3 linked regions of the Homo sapiens genome follow. The protein of the gene in region 1 purifies or fractionates together with the protein of each later gene. This does not show direct contact. Each region holds a gene or a part of one and is shown in the gene's direction. Other genes may lie near its edges. The genes, in order: MTMR10, MTM1 and PLEKHG3.

Region 1 (3,500 bases):
CTTTTGAAGAAACTGAAGAGAAATGGTTATCTTCACTGGAAAATACTCGATGGTTAGAATATGTAAGGTTTGTACTTCTTTACTTTCTTTTCCTTTAACTTTTTATTTTGAGATAACTACAGACTCACTGGAGGTACAAAAATAGCACAGAGGGCCATGTACTTACTCTTCATCCAACTTCCCCCAATAGTAACATCTCGTAACTAGAGTACAGCATCCAAACCAGGAAGCTGACACTGGGACACTGGATAGCTCTTACTCACCAGTTCATACATGCTGTCGTCTGTGTGCATGCCCTTAACACAGCTGTGCGATTTTATCACGTGTGTAGGTTCACGTAACCACCACCACAGGGAGATACAGACCTGTTCCATGACAAGGCTCCCCTGTGCTAGCCTTCTTATAGGTGCACCCTCATCGCCATCTGTGTCTGTTGACTACCACTAATCTCTTCTCAATCTCTATAGTTTTGTCATAAGTCAACCCCTTCCTTTTCATAAAGGGTTTATGAATTTCCCTGATGAAAAAGTACAAAATGAGGCCAGGCGTGGTGGCTCATGCCTGTAATCCCAGCACTTTGGGAGGCCAAGGCGGGTGGCTCACCTGAGGTCAGGAGTTCAAGACCAGCCTGGCCAACATGGTGAAACCTTGTCTCTGCTAAAAATACAAAAATTAGCCAAGCATGGTGGCACGCACCTGTAGTCCCAGCTACTCAGGAGGCTGAGGCAGGAGAATCACTTGAACCTGGGAGGCAGAGGTTGCATTGAGTCAAGATCACGCCACTGCACTGCAGCCTGGGTGATAGAGCAAGTCTCCATCTCAAAAAAAAAAATTTACAAAGTGGGGCCGGTTGTGGTAGCTCATGCCAGTAATTCCAAAGCTCTGGGGAGGAAGATCACTTGAGGCCAGTAGTTCACAACCAGCCTGAGCAACACAGTGAGACCCCATCTCCACAAAAAAGTTGGAAACTAGCCAGGCATGGTGGCATGTGCCTGCTGTCCTAGGGAGCCTGAGGCAGGAGGATCACTTGAGGCCAGGAGTTCACAACCAGCCGAGGAACATAGTGAGATGCCCATCTCCACAAAAAAATTTTAAAACTAGGCAGGCATGGTGGCTCGTGCCTGTGGTCCTAGCTGCTCAGGAGGTGGAGGCAGGAGGATCACTTGAGGCCAGGAGTTCAGGGTTACAATGAGCTGTGATATGCCACTGCACTCTAGTGTGGGTGACAAAATGAGAGCCTGTCTCTTAAAAAGAAAACAAAAATTACAAAATATACTCCTTTGAGAAATCGTATAAGTAACTAAAGAAACTTTACGGTAATGCGAAAGCTATGTGCATTCAGTAGAAAGCAGTCAATCCTCTCTTGTGATGCTGAGTAGCAGCAGGGAGCCACAGCTGCCAGTCAGCCACACAGTCTCAGTTTAGGGTATTTTCAGCTTACAGTGGGTTATCATGGGTCATGAGTTATGGGAATATCATGATCAGAGAGCATCTGTAAAGTGAGAAATTAGATTTGCTTGATTTCAAGTACTTTATGTATTTGTAGTGGAAATTTGATTTTTAACACTGCTTTTCCTTTTCTCTCTTCAGGGCATTCCTTAAGCATTCAGCAGAACTTGTATACATGCTAGAAAGCAAACATCTCTCTGTAGTCCTACAAGGTAACTAAAGTAACTCCTGAAAGCACCATGACCACCATACCAGCCAGCCTTGGTTTACTGCTTGTCCCCATTCAAGTAAATCACATCAGTTTTAGCTATTTCTTATTTACTACAGTACCATCAAATACATTACAGATTTTGCACATCATTTGAGTAAAACAGTGGCACAGGCTGGGCGCAGTGGCTGAAGCCTGTAATCCCAGACTTTGGGAGGTCGAGGCGGGCGGATCACTTGAGGTCAGAAGTTTGAGATCAGCCTGGCCAACGTGGTGAAACCTTGTCTCTACTAAAAATACAAAAATTAGTCAGGAGTGGTGGTGTGCGCCTGTAGTCTCAGCTACTCGGGAGGCCGAGGCAGGAGTATCACTTGAACCTAGGAGGCGGAGGTTGCAGTGAGCAGAGATCGCACCACTGCACTCCAGCCTGGGCAACACAGCAAGACTCAAAAAAAAAATAAATAAAAACCAGTGGCACAAGGACTGCAAATAGAAGAATAGAAAGTAGTCCAGTTTTTACCCTTTATTAAATTATCCTTCCTATTTTATGGGAAGGGTGGGTCCCATCCCCTAATGGATTAATACTTAGTGTTAATTTTGACAGGGCATTCTCTCTCTGTAATTTTGCTGTCTAATTTGTACAAATTTGTTTTAGTTTAAATACCTTCTGGCTCATGCTAGATTATGACTCTAAGGAAGCAGTTTGAGATGAAGAAATTTAGACTGAACTGCTGAATAGCTAGTAATGTAATATTTGGTAGGAATAAACGGTGATGTAAAAATCTTTCAGTTAAGCAAAGGATAATTACATATTAAATAACTTACAGCTAATAGAATTTGTAAGTTTGCAGATAAAGTTCAATAGACTAAAAACTACCTTCGTATAATACAGTAGTAGGTCCTTTGTACCCATGGCTTCCCCATCTGTGGTCAACCAACCCAGGACTGAAAATATTGGCGGGGGAAAGCTTTGGCCGTAATGAACATGAACAGACTTTTTTTTTGTTGTCATTATTCTCTAAACAGTATAGTATAACAACTGTTTACATAGCATTTACATTGTATTAGGTGTTATAAGTAATCTAGAGGTAACTTAAAGTGTACAGGAGGATGTGCATAGGTTATATGCAAATATTAACATCATTTTATATCCAGGACTTAAGCATTTGTGGATCTTGGTATCCAAAGGAGGCCCTGGAATGAGTTCCCCATGGATACTGAGGGAAGACTATATACTCATGTTGCATAGTATATGAATACAAAATGTTGCTTAAGCTTGCAGAAGTACTTTTTTTTTTTTTGAGATGGAGTTTCGCTCCTGTCACCTAGGCTGGAGTGCAGTGGAACGATCTCAGCTCACTGCAACCTCCACCTCCTGGGTTCAAGCGATTCTCCTGCTTCAGCCTCCCAAGTAGCTGGGATTACAAGCATGCACCACCACGCCCGGCTAATTTTTGTATTTTTACTAGAGATGGGGTTTCACCTTGTTGGCCAGGCTGCTCTCGAACTCCTGCCCTCAGGTGGTCTGCCCACCTCAGCCTCCCAAAGTGCTAGGATTATAGGCGTGAGCCACCGTGCCTGGCCAGGCTTGCAGAAGTACATTTAACAACTGCCAAACTTGATTGACTTTAACAAGGCAAAAATCTTTAAGACTCTTAGAAAAAAATCAAATAGTAATGTGTCATATAAAGTAATCCTGAACTGATACAGTCAGAGTGTGTGTTTAACTCACAAATGCATGCAGAGCCTAATAATCACAATTTCTCTCATCCAGTGGGTGTTCTCATCGTATTGGAGAACCCTACTCATCCTCCATTTCTCCATGCATTTGTAATAGAAAAGG
Region 2 (3,731 bases), on another chromosome or scaffold:
GCCTCCGCTGCAACTTCCTGCAGCTCTCATGACTACAGGGTTTTTTCTCGGTTTCAGTTTTTAGTTTTGTAAGCCATATTAAAAAGGCACCATTGGTATATGTATGAAATGCAATCTTCTTTCTTGAGGGGAACTTCAAAGAACTCGAGGAATGCCTCTTTCTTCTCTGGCTTTTCAGAGCTGGTGCAGAGTCCCTAAACAGAAGTTTCCTCATAGAGGGAATACCACGGACCAGGAGATTGCCTTTCCTGCTGCTCATTAGAATCACTTGGGGAGTTTTACATACTTGCTGCCCTGGGCATCGCCCACAGATATTCGAACTTAATTGATCTGGGCTGAGACTCTTGACATCTGCATTTTTAAAAAGTGGTCCCAGCGTGCAGCACTACCAGGAGCGCTTCTCCAACTTCATTGCCTTATGAATCACCTGGACTTCGAGTTGAAACACAGATTCTGACTCAGTGGTTCCGGGATGGGCCCGGAGAGCTTTTTCTTCTCATTTCCATCAAGCTCCCAGGTGATGCCAACAGTGTTGCTCTGTGGCTCCCACTCAGAGCAGCAAGCCACATCATAATCACCTGAGGGGTTTTTGCAAAACTACAAATTCCTGGCATCATGCCTGGAGTTTCTGATTCAGTAGGTCTGGGGTGGGGCCCAAGATCTTTACTTGAGAAGGCTCTTGCTTTCAATGTTTCACCATAAAGTATTGTGTTTACTCTAGGTTTTGTGTAGGGGCACTTCTAGTGTACATTTTTTTCGGTCATAAGTGGATGTTGAGTTTTATCAAGCCCCTTTTCTTCCTTTATGGAGATAGGTTTTTGGTTTGTGTTTTTGTAGAGAGGGCTTCTTACTGTGTTACCCAGGCTGGTCTCAAACTCCTGTCCTCAAGCAATTCTCCTGCCTCAGTCTCCCAAAGTGCTTAGGATTACAGGCGTGAGGGAGAACCTGTGTTTTCCCTCCTTGAACTTGTTAATGTGGTAGGCTATTTTAAGGGATTTTCTAGTATAACTTTGTAGCATTAACTAAGTTTGTATTGCTGGGATAAACTCAACAGGGTCATGTTCTTTCTTACTGCTGGGTTTGATTGCTAATACTTTCTTTAGGATTTTTACATCTTATATACATAAGATTTGGTATTAGTTTTCCTGTGCTGTCTTGGTCTAGTTTAGTATCATGCTTATGCTAGCCTTATAAAGTGAGTTGAGATATTCCCTTTTTCTGTTCTCTGGAAGTTTGTATAAGATTGGAGTTACTGGTTCCTTGAATGTTGCTAGAACTTGCACATGGAGCTGCCTGGGGCCTGGAAGATTATAAACTACCAGCAAATGTCTGCCAAATCTATAGCTGTGTCTGTCTTTTCATTCCTGCATCCTACTATTGTTTGTTTGTGCCCTCCTTTTTTCTTTATTAGTCTAACCAGAGGTTTGTCAGTTGTGGTTATGGCACCAACTTGATAATATAATTATGTTCATTTGTTTCCCTTTTAGGGCTTTTCCCCTGCTTTTTTGATTAATTTTTAACGAGTAAAAACTTTATATGATTTTGAAGTCACATTTATTTCAAGGTATATTCAGAAAAGTCTTGCTTTCACCCCATCTCTGACCAGGTATTCTGTTTCTTTCCCCCCCGTAGATGATCAATCTTATTAGTTTGTTCTTCTAAGTATCTTTTGCAAATTTGAGCAAGCACGTACATGTATTTTCCCCTTTTCTTGCACAAAAACATATTTCATACACTATTCAGCCTCTTGCCCTTTTCACTTAAAGAATATACCAGGAATCATTCTTCATTTTCTCCTCCTTTCTTTAGATTTATTCTGCTGTTTGGATGTTTCAAAACATAGTATTTTCATGATTATTTAGTTGTGATATTTTCTATTATGATTATTTCATTCACCTGCGAGCTGTTTAGAAGTATATTTTTACTTACAAATGTATTTTCTGGGTATTTTCAAAACTGATTTACAACTTAACTGCATTATGGTGAAAGAATATGATGTGAACACTCGTAGTTCTTTGAAATTTGTCAAGGATAGGCTTATGTGGTATTTTTGTGGCTGGCTTCTTTCACTTAGCATACTGCTTTTTATATTCATTTTTGTGTTGTTGCATGTATCAGCAGTTCCTGACTTTCTGTTGCTGAGTAGTATTCCATAGTATGGTTATAATGTAATTTATTCATTCAGTAGTTGATCATTTGAGTTGATTCAGTTTTTGGCCATTTTGAAAAAAAGCTGCCATGAACATTCACATACAAGTCTTTGTGTGGACTCATGCTTTTATTTGCTTCGTGTAAATACTTAGGTGTGGCATTGCTGGGCCATATGTTTAGTGTATGTTTAACTTTACAAGGAACTGTCAAACTGTTTTCCAAAGTGGCCATGCCATTGTGCCATTTTGCATTCCTACTGGCTTTAATTGTCTGCCTTTAAAATGTTAGCCATTTGACTGGGTGTATAATGGTATCTCATTGTATTTTTAACTTACAAATTCCTAGTGACTAGTAATAGTGAGCATGTCTTTATGTGCTTGTTGGCCATTAAGTTTATCTTCTTTGGTGAAGGATTTGCTGAAATCTTTTGCCCATTTCTTATTAAATTGGATTGTCTGTCTGAAGTTGTGAGGGTTCTTTTTATATTCTGGATACAAGTACTTCATCAGATATGTGATTTGCAAGCATGTTCTCTCAAACTGTGGTTTGTCTTTCATTTTCTTAACTGTGCCTGTGCAAGAGCAAGGAGTTTTGATTTTGATGAAGTCCTATTTACTTTTTCCCCTGTTATGGTTTGAGTTTTTGTGTTTTAAGAAATCTTTACTTAACCTAAGTTCACAAAAATTTTCCCCTGTGTTCCTTCCAGAACTTTTTTAGTCCTGCTCTTATGTTTAGATCTGTTTTGGCAGACAGATCTTTCCAACCCCTGGTGTTTATACCTGTGTGATCCCCTTCCCTTGAGTGTGAGCAGGACCTGTGACTTGCTTCTAGAATATAGACTAGAATATGGAAAAAGTGTAGGGATTCTACAGATATAATTAAGGTCACAACCAGTAGATTTTGAATTAATCAAAAGAGAAGTTATCCTGGGTAGGCCTGAATTAATCAGCACAAAACCCTTAAAAGAAGGTCTGGGTCCTCCCCGAGGTGAGATTCTCTTTGCTGACTTGTTGATGTGAGCAGCCACATTGAGGAAGGCCACATAGAAAGGAACTGCAGGTGGTCTCTAGGAACTAAAAGCTGCTTAGCAAAAAGCCAGGGCCTTCAACCATGCAGCCTAAAGGAAATGAGTTCTGCCAACACTCTGAATGAGCTTGGAAGCAGATTTTCCCCAGTTGAGCCTCCAGATGAGAATGCAGCCTGGCCATTACCTTGATTGCAACTTTGTGAGACCCTGAGCAGAGGACCCAGCTAAGCTGTGCCTGGACACCTGACCCACAGAAACTGTGAGATGATAAATGTGTGCTGTTTATGGCTGCTAAGTTTGTTATTCAGCAATATAAAACTAGTATGTCTATGTTCCATTTCAAGTTAATTTTGTATATTTTGTGAAGTAAGGGTAAAGATTCATTTATTTTTCCATATGGACATCAAACTGTTCCAGCATCATTTGTGGGAAAAGGCCCACACATTTTGGTAATTTTGTTGAAAATCAATTGACCATTGCTAGGACCTCAAAAAGAAGGGCCTAATTATAGTCTCTGTTCTGTTCCATTGATCTGTATGTCTATCCTTATACC
Region 3 (3,731 bases), on another chromosome or scaffold:
TGCTGGTAATTGTGACCCAGAGTCATCAAGAAAAGGTTAAATTATGTTCCCTTGACTCTGTTTAGGAAGGCAGGGAAGTGTGTAACGGATTTTTAAAAGATTCCCAGTCAGGTTGGCTAAAATTTTAAGTGTTGATACTTAGGTAATAATATCACTAATCCTTTAAATAAGACCAAGTAGGTGGTTTACCCACTTCACCCACCCCAGATGAGGAAACCAAGTCCCCACGAGTTGGGTAACTTGCTCAGGATCGCTCAGCTAATACTTGGCAGGGATGGGGTTTGAACTTTTGGAGCCCGCTCTTAGCCCTACCCCACACTGTTTTGAAACTCTGCATGCTCTTGCAAATGCTGCTTTTTGGATGCCCTCTCTCTACAGAGGTTCCAGCTGGCCAAAGTTTGACTGTGTTACAGTAGAGCCTGGATGAGTCCAATCTTAATTCGGCTCCACCCAAGCAGATTGCCAGTTATCCCAAAGGGTGTTTGCCTCAGTTGAAACAAGAATGCTTTTTTTTTGTTTTTTTTTTTTTGAGACGGAGTCTCACTCTGTTGCCCAGGCTGGAGTGCAGTGGCATGATCTCGGCTCACTGCAAGCTCCGTCTCCCGTGTTCATGCCATTCTCCTGCCTCAGCCTCCCGAGTAGCTGGGACTACAGGCACCCACCACCACGTCTGGCTAATTTTTGTATTTTTAGTACAGACAGGGTTTCACCTTGTTAGCCAGGATGGTCTCGATCTCCTGACCTTGTGATGCGCCTGCCTTGGCCTCCCAAAGTGCTGGAATTACAGGTGTGAGCCATTGCGCCCGGCCAAGAGTTCTTTATATATTCTGGATACAAGTTCATTGTCAAGTATACGATTTACAGATATTTTTTCCCATTCTGTGATTTGTCTTTTCACTTTCTTGGTAGTGTGCTGTGAAACACAAAAGTTTAAAATTTTGATGATGAAGTACAATTTATTTTTTCTTTAGTTGCTAGTGCTTTTGGTGTTACACCTAAGAAACCATTGCTCACTCAGGTTCATAAAGATTTACTCCTATCTTTTCTTCTAAGAGTTTGATAGTTTTAGCTCTTACATTTAGGTCTGTGACCCATTTTGACTTTTTTGTATATGGTTTGAAATAGGTGTCCAGATTCATTCTTTTGCATGTGAAGATCTAGCACCTTTTGTTGAAAAGACTATTCTTTCTCTATTGAATTGTCTTGGCACCCTTGTTGAAAATCAGTTGCCAATAAATATGTTGTTTTATTTCTGTAATCTCAATTCTCTTTCATTGATCTATATGTCTGCCCTTACACCGGTACCATATAGTCTTGATAACTATAGCTTTGTAGTAAGTTTTGAAATCAGGTTGTATCAGCCCCCCAACTTGGTTCTTTTTCAAGGTTGTTTTGGGTATTCTGGGTCCCTTGCTTTTCCATATGAATTTTAGGATCAGCTTGTCAATATCTGCAAAAAAAAAATCAGCTATATTTTGATAGAGATTGTATTGCATCTTTAGATTGGTTTGTTGAGTATTGCCATATTAACAATGTTAAATGTTCCATTCCATGAACAAGGAATGTCTTTTAGGTCTTCTTTAATTTCTTTCAACAGTGTTTTGTGGTTTTCAGCATACAAGTCTTACACTTCTTTCGTTAAATATATTCCTAAGTATTTTATTCTTTTTGCTGCTATTATAAATGGGAGTCTTAATTCCATTTTATGATTGCTCATTGCTAGTGTACAGGAATAAAATAGATTTTTGTGTGTTGATCTTGTATTCTGGTACATTGCTGAACACTTTTATTGGTTCTAATAGTTTTGTGGTAGATTACTTAGGATTTTCCATATACAAGTTCATGTTATCTATGAATAGAGATTGTTTTATTTCTTCCTTTTCAACCCAGATCTCTTCTATTTCTTTTTCTTGTCTAATTGCCCTGGCTGGAACTCCAGTATCGAATATAGTGGCAAGACTGGATATCCTTGTCTTCTTACTAATCTTAGTGAAAAAGCATTGTCTTTCTCCATTGATTATGATGTACCTGTGGGTTTTTCATGGATGTTCTGTGTAAGGTTGGGGATATTCTCTTCTCTTCCTAGATTGTTGAGCGTTTTTATCATAGAAGAGTGTTGGATTTTGTCAAAATTTTTTTCTGGGTGTATTGAAGTGATCAGGTGATTTTTACACTTTATCCTATTATCAACCTGAATTATTTTAATTAATTTTTAGATGTTAACCTAATCTTGCATCTCTGGGATAAATCCCACTTGGTCATAATGTATGGTTGTGGTTGCTAGATTCAATTTGTTAGTATTTTGTTGAGGATTTTTGTGTCTATATTCATAAGGAATGTGGGATTGTAGGTTTCTTTTTTCTGATATCTTGTCTGGTCCTGATGGCAGGGTAATACTGGCCTCATAGAATGAGTTGGGAAGTATTTCCTGCTGTTTTTTTGTGGGGTGAGAGTTTGTGAAGAGTTGATATGAATTATTCTTTAAATGTTTGGTAGACTTCACCAGGGAAGCCGTCTAGTCCTGGGCTTTTCTTCATTGGAAGTTTTAAAGTTACTAATTTAATCTCTTGTTTAGACTTTTTCTTTCTAAATCTGTCAGTGGTTTGTGCCCTTCTAGAAATTTGGCTGTTTCAACAAAGTTATCCAATTCATTGGCATATAGTTCATGACATTTCCTTATCATCCTTTAAGATATTTTTTGTCTTTGGTGTTCTGCATATATACTATATACAGTATGTCTGAATGTGGGCTTATTTGAAGTTTAGCTTGGTGTGTGCCTTCAATCTGAGGACTAAAGTCTATCCTTAGTTCTAGAAAGTTCATATACATTATCTCTTTGAAATTTGCACCTTCCCCCATTTCCTTTTTTTTTCTCTGTGGACCTCTAAGTCTATTAATGTTTATATTTCCTATCTTATTTGTTTGAATTAAATTCAGGATGATTTCTTCAGTTTATCTTTCACTTAACTAATTCTCTCTTTAGCTGTGTTTAATTTTCTATTTAACTATTGGGTTTTATATTTCAATATTGAATATTTTATTTTCATGTATTGCTTTTTCTAATTGGCCTGTTCCTTACCCCCTATACTACCATCTTCTTTTATTAAGATTTTTATCTCTTTTATATTTCCAATCATTTAAACTATTCATCTTTAAACATCTTTTGTAGACCTATTCTTTAATTTCTAGTTCTTTGAGTGCCAGTTTGTTCAATTTTCTGACTTCCTTATGATGGTTTGTTTCCTTGTGTGGTTTGAAATTTCTGTATCAGGTTCCTCTTCAGTGGTTACAGAGGATGGGATACTTCAAAGCAAGGTTTTGGAAGCGTGCACTTATTGGTGATGATGAGGTCTGGGGCATATGAGACATGTGAGTGGATGGCTATGGTGGGGTAGAGGAAAAGACTGTTGGAAGGCTCATCCCCCAAAGCTTCACATGTTTGGCTGCTTCTTACAATACAGGTCTCTCTGCTCTAGAGTCACCTCTTTAATGCCTTCCCAGGCCTCCTTAGCTAGTGGAAATTCCCATCTCTCAGAGTATTCTGTTTTCCCTCCTCTATCTTTTTCATAGCACTTACACTTTCCAAAAATGTGTTAGTTATTTGTCTACCTTTTTGTGGCCGTCTTGCTTACTGGAATGTAAGCTCCATGAGAATGAGGATGTGTCTTATTCACTGCTGTGTCCCTAGCACGTGGCACATGGTTTATACTGTCAATACATGTGAGTGAATT

The links.
Region 2: the proteins of MTMR10 (region 1) and MTM1 purify together in Homo sapiens (affinity purification with mass spectrometry, with the first as the bait; one large-scale study listed by BioGRID). This does not show direct contact.
Region 3: the proteins of MTMR10 (region 1) and PLEKHG3 purify together in Homo sapiens (affinity purification with mass spectrometry; one large-scale study listed by BioGRID and IntAct). This does not show direct contact.

What each region holds. Positions count from the first base shown.
Region 1 is NC_000015.10:30,950,129-30,953,628, reverse strand, and holds part of MTMR10 (myotubularin-related protein 10), read left to right. Parts: coding exon 1-67; intron 68-1,590; coding exon 1,591-1,661; intron 1,662-3,500.
Region 2 is NC_000023.11:150,575,025-150,578,755, forward strand, and holds part of MTM1 (myotubularin), read left to right. Parts: intron 1-3,731. UniProt on the Homo sapiens protein: Lipid phosphatase which dephosphorylates phosphatidylinositol 3-monophosphate (PI3P) and phosphatidylinositol 3,5-bisphosphate (PI(3,5)P2). Has also been shown to dephosphorylate phosphotyrosine- and phosphoserine-containing peptides.
Region 3 is NC_000014.9:64,710,903-64,714,633, forward strand, and holds part of PLEKHG3 (pleckstrin homology domain-containing family G member 3), read left to right. Parts: intron 1-3,731. UniProt on the Homo sapiens protein: Plays a role in controlling cell polarity and cell motility by selectively binding newly polymerized actin and activating RAC1 and CDC42 to enhance local actin polymerization.